Homo sapiens: one gene and its partners. The protein of the gene in region 2 interacts with the protein of the main gene of each other region in a pairwise test. Each region holds a gene or a part of one and is shown on either strand. Other genes may lie near its edges.

Region 1 (3,500 bases), on a different chromosome or scaffold from region 2:
CCTGGGTTCAAGCAATCCTCCCACCTCAGCCTGCAGAGTAGCTGGGACTACTGATGTGTGCCACCCCGATGAACTAATTTTTAAATTTTGTGTACAGACAGGGTCTTGCTATGTTGCCTAGGCTGGTCTCGAACTCCTGGGCTCAAGTGATCCTCCCACCTCGGCCTCCCAAAGTGCTGGGATTCCATGTGTGAGCCACTGTGCCTAGCCTGATTACAAAAACCAAAACGGACTAAATTTGTAATTTTTAAAAAAGGATGTCCTAACCCTAACTTTCACTTTTTTCTAGTGGAAGTCTCACACTGTGTCCTTCCCACTCTCGCATTTTCATAATGCTGGTCATGGGACCCTTATCAATCCTAATCATTCTTAAAATAATAATGACCTCAGAAGAGCCAAATTTTCTAAAGATGGGGGAGAGGCATCGACGATACCTCCAGGTGCCCAGCGACTCCCTGGAGGCGGTGGTCCTGGCAGTTCCAGTCCAGATCTAAAAATTCTCAACAGGACAATTTATCTACCAGGTGGACAGAGAGAGAAAGTGTTTCCAGGTCCATATATTCTTGACAAACTACCATAATCAACGCTGCCTTCCCAGCTGGACTGAGGTTGGTAAGTTGGTTTTGAAGGCTAAAACAAAAATTTTAGATGTTGAAAAAACTACCTTACATACAAAGGAGACTTAACAACCTAAACCATTGTAAAAAATAACCAACTCTTGTGAAATCTGCCATTTGAAGTAAAACTGCCATTTGAAGAAGACTCTACCCCCTCTCTCGATCCGCAGGGTGACTGGCTCCCACCCAGCCCAGGCTATGAAGACACATGTGCCTCGTCTGCGCTCCAGAGAGCATCTACTGTCACCAAGAGTTAAAACAATAAAACATCATATCTTTAAAAGCAACATAACAAAAGATACGGGAGCTGCCAAATGGGGCCCGGAGGAACACTGACAAGTAAGGTGTCAGTCTGTCCCTAAGAACACCACCATTCCCACAGACAGCTGGACTGGGTGGGTTCAGGTTGACTGGACGGAGCTGAGTGGAGCAGGAAGCTGGCGGGCTTCGGGAGCTTGTCTCGTCCCGCTTACCACGGGTGCTAGCTTATGACAGTCCAGAGCGGGGGTCTTGAGACTCTGTTTTCTGGGCTCTTCTACGCAAACCTGGAAATGGGCCTTTCCACATATTAGTTACAACCACGAAAACAGTGAGCCAAAAACAAAACAACAGCTGCATTTTGATAGCTTATCTAACAGATTTTTTTTTTGTTTGTTTGTTTTTAAGACAGAGTCTCGTTCTGTCACCAGGCTGGAGTGCAGTGGTGCAGTCTTAGCTCACTGCAACCTCCAACTCCCTGGTTCAAGCAATTCTCCTGCCTCAGCTTCCCGAGTAGCTGGGATTACAGGCATGTGCCACCACACCCGGCTAATTTTTGTATTTTTAGTAGAGACAGGGTTTCACCATGTTGGCCAGGATGGTCTCGATCTGCTGACCTTGTGATCCACCCGCCTCGGCCTCCCAAAGTGCTGGGATTACAAGTATGAGCGACTGTGCCTGGCCCAAACAGTTCTTTAAAATTCTCCATCCTATGATTAAAAAGCAGCATGTTGTCTTTCTTTAGATTCAGGAAACAGAAGTGAAGTCTTTGAAATAAATATTTTGCTGCTTTTTACATACTTCACCTTTGGATACATCTAGACTTATAGGATTATAAACATTGTTAAAAAGTGCTGATTAGTTTTCAGAATTATAAAGGAGCACAATAGTCAAAAGCGGGGTGAATGGGAAGACAGGCCACGAATTTTGAGGTTACCAGTTAATTAAATGGTAAATCACGAATGTGATCTAAAGCAATGTGCATTGATTAACATCGGGTGAGTTAAAATCAGACCATTGAGCATAATTCGCCGTAATCTTCCCAGTCCTGAGATTAGCCACCTACCCCCAGCATTTGAGTTCTATGCTCTTAGAAGTACTGGTTAAAACAAAGATATGGAATAATATGCCGGTTACCTACAGCTCAGACTGTCCAAGCTCTAAGGTTAAAGTGGTGGATATTTGTGCAAAATCGTGCTGCTCCCCCGTCTCCTTTGTAGTGCTGTCAGCTTCAGAACTCCTGGAAAAGGTGTGGCTGATCTGAAGGAACTCAGTACATGTCCCTGTAGATCTCCTGCAGTAGCGGGTGCAGCGCAGCATCCGACTCCGTCTTCTTGATGATCTGCACCAGCTGCGCATGCTCCGTCACCAGCTGCCGGAGGTCTGCCATTTTTTGAAGAAGTTTTGGGAAGAGAAAGATATCGTCCGGGTGGTTGCTCTGCAGGTGGAGTCTGAGCACATGTACAATACCCTCCTGCATTTTTTCAATGTGTCCTACGTTTAGAAGGCCAGGACGATCTAGTCTCGAAAGAAGAGAGAGAGGTTTGAGTGTGATAATCACCCAAGAACTGCTTATCAGTTTCAGGAACCAAACATGCCTATTTTATGTGGCCTTTCTTAGAAAAAAACTGAGCTGCCTTTAGATATTGTCAACTTGACTGGAAGATAGACATAGGTTTTTCCAAAGTCAATAGGTGAAGTAGGGACAGACAGGACCAGTACTCTTTCCTAAATATTCATACTACTAGGCGGCAATAGTGCCCTAAGTACACCTTATGGTGCGGCCTTTTCACTTGTGATTTACCTGATGACCACCTGTCAGGGAGAAAAATTAGAGCTAGTAGGAGGAACAGTACATTCTGGAGATCACAACCACCAGTTTTGCATAATATGGGAAATGAAGCTTTTGAATCCAAACTAGATATCAAGCTTCAAGTGTTCCACCATATTTAAGGAGTGATTGTGTTAGAACTAGGTTTTGTAGGCCAGGCACGGTGGCTCACGCCTGTAATCCCAGATACTCGGGAGGCTGAGGTGGGAGAATCGCTTGAACCTGGGAGACGGAGATTGCAGTGAGCCAAGATCAGGAGACCCAGAGTGGGGAGGAGGGTGGGGCAGGTCTGAGACTTGGTGCAGGAAGAGTCAACATTCACACCAGATGACCTGCCTGGGGTAGCTGGCACTAGACATCCTGGGACAGTCTCAAAGCATGAGACCTGATTCTTGGTCCAGAAAATACTGCCCTGAGCCATGTTCAGCAGGCGGTGCTCCCTTACAGACCCAGTCATTACTATGATTCTTAACAGGGTTGCTAGTGATGAGGATTTAAACATCTTCATTGTTTTTGGTTGTAAATGTAATTATTAAGTTTTTATTTCTAAAATTCTTGTTTTTGTATTGTTTTAGTGATGGGGTCTTGCTCTGTTGCTTAGGCTGGACTGGAACTCCTAGGCTCAAGCAATCCTCCTGCCTCGGCCTCCAGAGTGGCTGGGGCTATAACTATTAAGTCTCTAAAGAGAGGAATTATTGCCGGGTGCAGTGGCTCATGCCTGTAATCCCAGCACTTTGGGAGGCCGAGGTGGGTGGGTCACCCGGGGTCAGGAGTTTGAGACCAGCCTGGCCAAT
Region 2 (3,500 bases):
ACTGCCTATCTTTCTAGGTTGATACAAAGATAAAACGAGGATAATGAGCACAAAGAAGTTGGCTACTTAGTAAACTCCAAAGTGGTAACACTTATTTTTCTTATGTTATTGTATGATTAAATGAATATCCTAGTGGTTTAAGGCTAAGGCAAAAGAATCAGAAAGTAGTTGACTGCAGTGGTCTAGGCTCAGAGATACTAAAATGACGGAAATATTGGTTCCAGTACTTTAAAACAGGAGTAGAATTTGACCTTTCTCTTGCCCTTTAATTTCTTTGAAACTTTTTCTCTTTGAAGCTACTTGAAGGTGGAGAGTAGGCAATTTTATGTAAAATAAAATTACTGCTAATAAAAAGACAAATGTCTATGACTCCTGAGGTCAGGAGTTCGAGAATAGCCTGGCCAACATGATGAAACCCCGTCTCTGCTAAAAAATACAAAAATTAGCTGGGCTTGGTGGCACACGCCTGTTATCCCAGCTACTCAGGAGGCTGAGGCTGGAGAATCGCTTGAACCCGGGAGGCAGAGGTTGCAGTGGACTGAGATCACACTACTGCACTCTAGCCTGGGCGACAGAGCAAGACTCTGTCTCAAAAAAACAAAAACAAAAACAAACAAACTTATGAGCAATCTTTACCAGGATAGTAATTAATGAAGAAAATTTTCTGAAAGAAAAACAATTATATGACCCAGTGATTTCTAAGCACCATCTTCGAGTAGAGACTTTCAAACTTTTTTGACCAGGACTCTTATTAAGAAATATTTTATATTATAACCCAGAACACACATGCATATGTATATATGTTTGTGCATTTATGAGATACACAAATACCTAAAATAATAATTTCACAAAACACTATGTATCCTTGCTCTATATAGTGACATACAATTATTTTTAAACCTATTTCATTAAAAGACAAAACAAAAAAGCCTGGGAACAGATTTTGTGGGTTATAAAATCTATGTGGTGGGTTGTGACACACCACATAGATTTTATGACCCACAAATGAATAATAACCTGTAGAATAAAATATTTTTGTTTTAAGTAAAATTGTTGTAATCCATTGCAAAAATAACCCTACTCTATTCTGTTTGTTGTTTTTTGTTTTTGTTTTTGTTTTTTTGAGAAGGAGTCTTGCTCTGTTGCCCAGGCTGGAGTACAGTGGCACAATCTCAGCTCACTGCAACCTCCGCCTCCTGGGTTCAAGCAATTCTCCTGCCTCAGCCTCCTGAGTAGCTGGTATTACAGGCACCCACTACCATGCCAGGCTAATTTTTGTATTTTTAGTAGAGACAGGGTTGTACCATGTTGGCCAGGCTGGTCTCGAACTCCTGACCGCAGATGATCCACCCGCCTTGGCCTCCCAATGTGCTGGGATTACAGGCATTAGCCACCGCGCCCAGCAACCCTACACTATTCTTAAGGTGTTGACATGCATTGTGAAATTAAATAACTAAGAATAGGGTATTTTATTAGTCTGTTCTCAAGCTGCTACTAAAGACATACCCAAGACTGGGTAATTTATAAAGGAAAGAGGTTTAATTGACCCACAGTTCAGCATGGCTGGGGAGGCCTCAGGAAACTTACAATCATGGTGGAAGGGGAAGCAAACATGTCCTTCTTCACATGCAGCAGCAGGAGAAGTGCCGAGCAAAAGGGGGAAAAGCCCCTTATAAAACCGTCAGATCTCATGAGAACGCACTGTCACCAGAATAGCATGAAGGTACCTGCCCCCATAATTAAATTGTCTCCTACCGGGTCCCTCCCACGACACATGGGGATTATGAGAAATTGGGAACTATAATTCAAGATGAGATTTGGATGGGGACACAGCCAAACCATATCAGGTATTTAAATTACAAGTGAACACTGATCACATTACAACCCGAAGAAAAATTAGATTCATATTGTGATTATTGGTTATATTTATCAAAGGGGAAACAAACTACTGGCATGGGACAGCATCCTTCCGGATAACCTGCACACATAATCCTCTCCATAAAGTTCTGACATCTTTGGTTTGGTTACCTTCTGTAATCACTACCCCAGGAAATGTACAGAGGATTTTTTTCCTCTAAAGACAGAATCTGCAAATTCATGTTTTCCCCCACTTTTTTTTTTTTTGAGACGGAATCTCACCCTGTCGCCCAGGCTGGAGTGCAACAGCACGATCTCAGCTCACTGCTTCCCAGGTTCAAATGATTCTCCCCTCAGCCTCCTGAGTAGCTGGGATTACAGGCACCCGCTACCATGCCTAGCTAATTTTTGTATTTTTTTGGTAGAGACAGGGTTTCACCATGTTGGCCAGGCTGGTTTCGAACTCCTGACCTCGTGATCTGCCTGCCTCAGCCTCCCAAACTGCTGGGATTACAGGTGTGAGCCACCACGCCCAGCCTTCCTCCACTTTTCTTGGTGCGACTCACCACCACTGTGACTACCATACTATCTTTTTCTGTCATAACTTTTCATACACCATTCATTCACTTGGCAGATATTTATTCAGAGCCTACCAGCAAATATATATTCAGAGCCTACCATATTCCATGTACTGTTCTAGGCACTGGGGATACAGCTGCAATTATAACGAAGTCCCTAGTCTCATGGAATTTACATCCTAATAACAGTATTAATAATAGCGGACATTTATAGTGCTTTTAACGTGCCAGGTATTGTTACAGATGCTTTATATATATTAACCCATTTAATCCTCAAAACAACCATGAATAAGGTGCTATTATTACCCCCATATCACAGATGAGAAAACTGAGATATGAAAAGTTTAAGTTACTAGTCCAAAGTTCAAGTCAGTTACAGATAGTAAGCAGTGAAGCTGCAATTCAAACCCAACAAATCTGACATCAGAATTTACAGTCTCCACTGCTACAACACTAACTTCTGTTGGGGAAAAGAGGGGCCAGGATGAGGAAAACGGGTCAGAGGAAACAGATAATAATTAAGTATTTGTGAAGTAGTGATAAATGCTATAGAGAAAATAAAGGTAAGGAGAGAGAGAGTAAGGGGAAAGAAAGGTTGCTATTTTATAGAGTCAGGGAAGGCCTTGATAAGGTAATGGTTGAACAGACCTGAAGGAAGTGAGGAGCAAGTCACATGGCTATCTGGAGAAAGACTGTTCCATGCAAAGGTAACTGCCAAGTGCAAATTTTTGCAGGTGGGAACACACCTGGATTCTTCAGGTAATAGCTAGTTGAACAATGGCTGGAACAAAGAAAACAAAAGGGAAAGTAACAGGAGATAAAGCAGGGAGCTTGGGAACTGATCATGAAAGGCAGTGGTAAGGGCTCTAACTTGTATTCTATGAGATATGGAAACCACTGGGGATTTTTGAGCCAAGGGGTAACAAAATTTTACTTCCATTTAACACAAAAGCATAACTCTAGCCGCTGTGTCAATGACCTTGGGGTTAAGTGGAGGCAGAGAGGGATGCTATGATAATCATCCAGGGAAGAGATCATCATGGCTTGAAACATGATCTGCTGAAT
Region 3 (3,500 bases), on a different chromosome or scaffold from region 2:
AAAAAAAAAAAAAAGTATTTCGGCTTGGTTGCGCATGCCTATAGTTCCAGCTACTTGGGAGGCTGAGGTGGGAGGATTGCTTGAGCCCAGGAGGTTGAGCTATCGTCACACCGCCACACTCCAGCCAGGGTGAGAGAGCAAGACACTCTCAAAAAACAAAAAATAAAAATAACTGCAAGTAGAAAAAAAAAAAGTATCTGCAAGGTCTACAGGAATAGAAGAATTCCAGAAGGATATACACAAACTATTAACAATAGTTACCTCAAAGGTAGGGTGTTAAAAAAAAAAGTATTATTCAAAACAGATGTTTTTGAGTTTAAAAAGAGTACTTTATTAATTCTACCAAGACATCAGCTGACAAGGGTAGCAGAATAGGAAAGCTTGCCATCTCCCTTAGGCTTTACTTTTGTAATTTCATAGACCCAGTCACCGATCATTATTCCCTTTCAGTTTTTGGACATTTAAATTTTGCACTAATAATCTGTTATTGATATATTGATGTTTATACAGGTTACTGCAGGCAACATTTCCAATCCAAGTGCTTCAAACAGCCTAAGAAAGTGCTTTTATGCTCTAAATGAAATTGAGGAGAAAGGAGGAAAGTACGGTCCAGAGACCATCTACAGAACAACGTATCTTTAGAATCCAAGTTTTTTTGTTTTTGTTTCTGAGACAGAGTCTTGCTCTGTCGCTAGGCTGGAGTACAGTGGCGCGATCTCGGCTCACTACAACCTCTTCCTCCCAGGTTCAAGCTATTCTCCTGCCTCAGCCTCCCCTGTAGCTGGGAACACAGGAGTGCGACCACGCCTGGTTAATTTTTTATTTTTTTTGTATTTTTAGTAGAGACGGGGTTCCAACACATTGGCCAGGCTAGTCTCGAACTCGTGATCTCAGGTGACGCGCCTGCCTCAACCTCCCAAAGTGCTGGGATTACAGATGTGAGCCACCACAGCCGTCTCCAAGTTTTTTTTGTTTTTTTTTTTGTTTGTTTTTTTTTTGAGACGGAGTCTCGCTCTGTCGCCCAGGCTGGAGTGCAGTGGCATGAGCTCTGCTCACTGCAAGCTCCGCCTCCTGGGTTCATGCCATTCTCCTGCCTCAGCCTCCCGAGTAACTAAGACTACAGGCACCTGCCACCACACCCGGCTAATTTTTTGTATTTTTAGTAGAGACAGGGTTTCACTGTGTTAGCCAGGATGGTCTCGAACTTCTGACCTCGTGATCCGCCCACCTTGGCCTCCCAAAGTGCTGGGATTACAGGCGTGAGCCACCACGCCCGGCCCCCGCCTCCAAGTTTTATCTTGAAAATTAAATTCTGGGTTTTATTCCATAAGGTAACGGGTTCCATTTTAATATAAAAACAATCTTCAATGCTCTCTTAAATAATATTCACAGTATGAATAACTATGACCTTCCAGGAAAAAATACTTTTATGATTTAGCACAGGGGCTGCAAACTATAGCGTGTGGGCCAAATCTGGCCTGCCGTCAGTTTTTGTACTGCCTTTGAGCTAAGAATGAATTTCGCTGTTTTTTTTTTTTTTTTTTTGAGACGTCGTTTCGCTCTTGTTGCCCAGGCTGGATTGCAATGGCGTGATCTCAGCTCACCACAACCTCAGCCTCCTGGGTTCAAGCGATTCTCCTGCCTCAGCCTCCCGAGTAGCTGGGATTACAGGCATGGGCCACCATGCCCGGCTAATTTTGTATTTTTAGTAGATACATGGTTTCTCCATGTTGGTCAGGCTGGTCTCTAACTCCTGACCTCAGGTGACCCACCCGCATGAGCCTCTCAAAGTGCTGGGATTACAGGCGTGAGCCACTGTGCCCAGCCTATGAATTTCACATTTTTAAAAGGTTAAAAATATCTGAAGAATAATATTTTGAGACATGTAAAAATTATATTAAATTCAAATTCCAACCAGGTGCAGTGACTCATGCCTGTCATCCCAGCACTTTGCGATGCCTATGTGGGCAGACTGCTTGAGGCCAGGAGTTTGAGACCAGCCTGGGCAACATAGTGAGACCCGTCTCTACAAAAAATTTAAAAATTAGCCAGGTGTGGTGGTGCACACCTGTAATCCCAGCTACTCAGGAGGCAGAGGAAGGAGGACTGCTTGAACCCAGGAGTTCAAGGCTGTTGTGGGCTACGACTGCACCACTGCACTCAGCCTGGGCACATAGTGAGAACCTGTCCCCCCAGCCCAAAAGAAATTATCACTGTGCAGGAAGTAATGAATAAAAAGAAAAAAGTCTTCAAATTCCAGTGTCCATAAAGTCTTATTGAAATAGACACATTCATTCACTTACCTATTATCTATGGCTGCTTTTGTGCTACAACAGCAAAACTGAGTAATGAGCAACTGGGACAGAGACTGTATGGCCCACAAAACCAAAAACGTTTGGTTAAGACCTTCGCAGAAAAGGACTACTGGCCAGGGGTGATGGTGCATGCCTATAGTCCCCGCTGCTAGGGAGGCTGAGGCGGGAAGATGGCTTAAGTCCAGCAGTTCAAGACCAGCTTGGGCAACAAAGCAAGACCCCATCTGAAAAAAAATAATTAAAAAGGTCTGCTGACCCCTGGCTTGGCCTATATTAGTTCAAACTAATTGTAAGTCCCCATTTAGAGACGTGTGCTATGTGGTTACAGCACAGTTCCCAGTACAACTTAACCTAGTAAAGCCTCAAGTTTCCTAATTTACAAAGTGAGGACAATGACACTTAACTCAGAAGGTTATTGTGAAGATTAAATGAAACTTGGCTCATAGTAAGCACTCAAACTGCAACTGCTATTATATCTTTTTTTTTTTTTTTTTTTGAGATCTAGTTTCCGCTCTTGTTGCCCAGGCTGGAGTGCAATGGCGCGATCTTGGCTCACTATAACCTCTGCCTCCCATGTTCAAGTGATTCTCATGCCTCAGCCTCCCAAGTAGCTGGGATCACAGGCATGCGCCACCACACCTGGCTAATTTTGTATTTTTAGTAGAGACAGGGTTTCACCATGCTGCCCAGGCTGGTCTCTAACTCCTAACCTCAGGTGATCTGCCTGCCTTGCCCTCCCAAAGTGCTGGGATTACAGGCATGAGCCACCGCACTGGGCCTAGAATTTTTTTTTTTTTTTTTTTTAAGAGACAGGGTCTCGGGCCAGGCAGAGTGGCTCATGCCTTTCCAGCATTTTGGGAGGCCGAGGTGGGAGAATCACTTGAGGCCCGAGTTCAAGACTAGCCTGGGCAATACAGCAAGACCCTATGTCTTGAGAGAGAGAACAAACGAACATGACAGACCAACAGACAGACAGGGGGTCTCACTATGTTGCCCAGGCTGGTCTTGAGCTACTGGCCTCAAGTGATCTCCTTCCTCCTGCCTCAGCCTCCCTAAGTGCTAGGATTATAGGCCTGAACCACTGTGCCTGGGAAGATTTTTGTTTTACAATACTTCTTAATACTACAAATGAATGTGTTACCTTAATCTTCACTTCAGTGAGAAGACTAATGATTTCATCATAAT

The links. Proteins that work in one complex are often made in the same cells at the same time.
Region 1: the proteins of ZSCAN23 (region 2) and PPARA interact in a two-hybrid assay, tested with the Homo sapiens proteins (one large-scale study listed by BioGRID).
Region 3: the proteins of ZSCAN23 (region 2) and TULP3 interact in a two-hybrid assay, tested with the Homo sapiens proteins (one large-scale study listed by BioGRID and IntAct).

Annotation. Positions count from the first base shown.
Region 1 is NC_000022.11:46,234,026-46,237,525, reverse strand, and holds part of PPARA (peroxisome proliferator-activated receptor alpha), read right to left. Parts: intron 2,394-3,500; coding exon 2,146-2,393; 3' UTR 1-2,145. UniProt on the Homo sapiens protein: Ligand-activated transcription factor. Key regulator of lipid metabolism. Activated by the endogenous ligand 1-palmitoyl-2-oleoyl-sn-glycerol-3-phosphocholine (16:0/18:1-GPC). Activated by oleylethanolamide, a naturally occurring lipid that regulates satiety.
Region 2 is NC_000006.12:28,436,992-28,440,491, forward strand, and holds part of ZSCAN23 (zinc finger and SCAN domain-containing protein 23), read right to left. Parts: exon of another isoform or gene 3,084-3,500; intron 1-3,083. UniProt on the Homo sapiens protein: May be involved in transcriptional regulation.
Region 3 is NC_000012.12:2,897,391-2,900,890, reverse strand, and holds part of TULP3 (tubby-related protein 3), read right to left. Parts: intron 1-3,500. UniProt on the Homo sapiens protein: Negative regulator of the Shh signaling transduction pathway: recruited to primary cilia via association with the IFT complex A (IFT-A) and is required for recruitment of G protein-coupled receptor GPR161 to cilia, a promoter of PKA-dependent basal repression machinery in Shh signaling.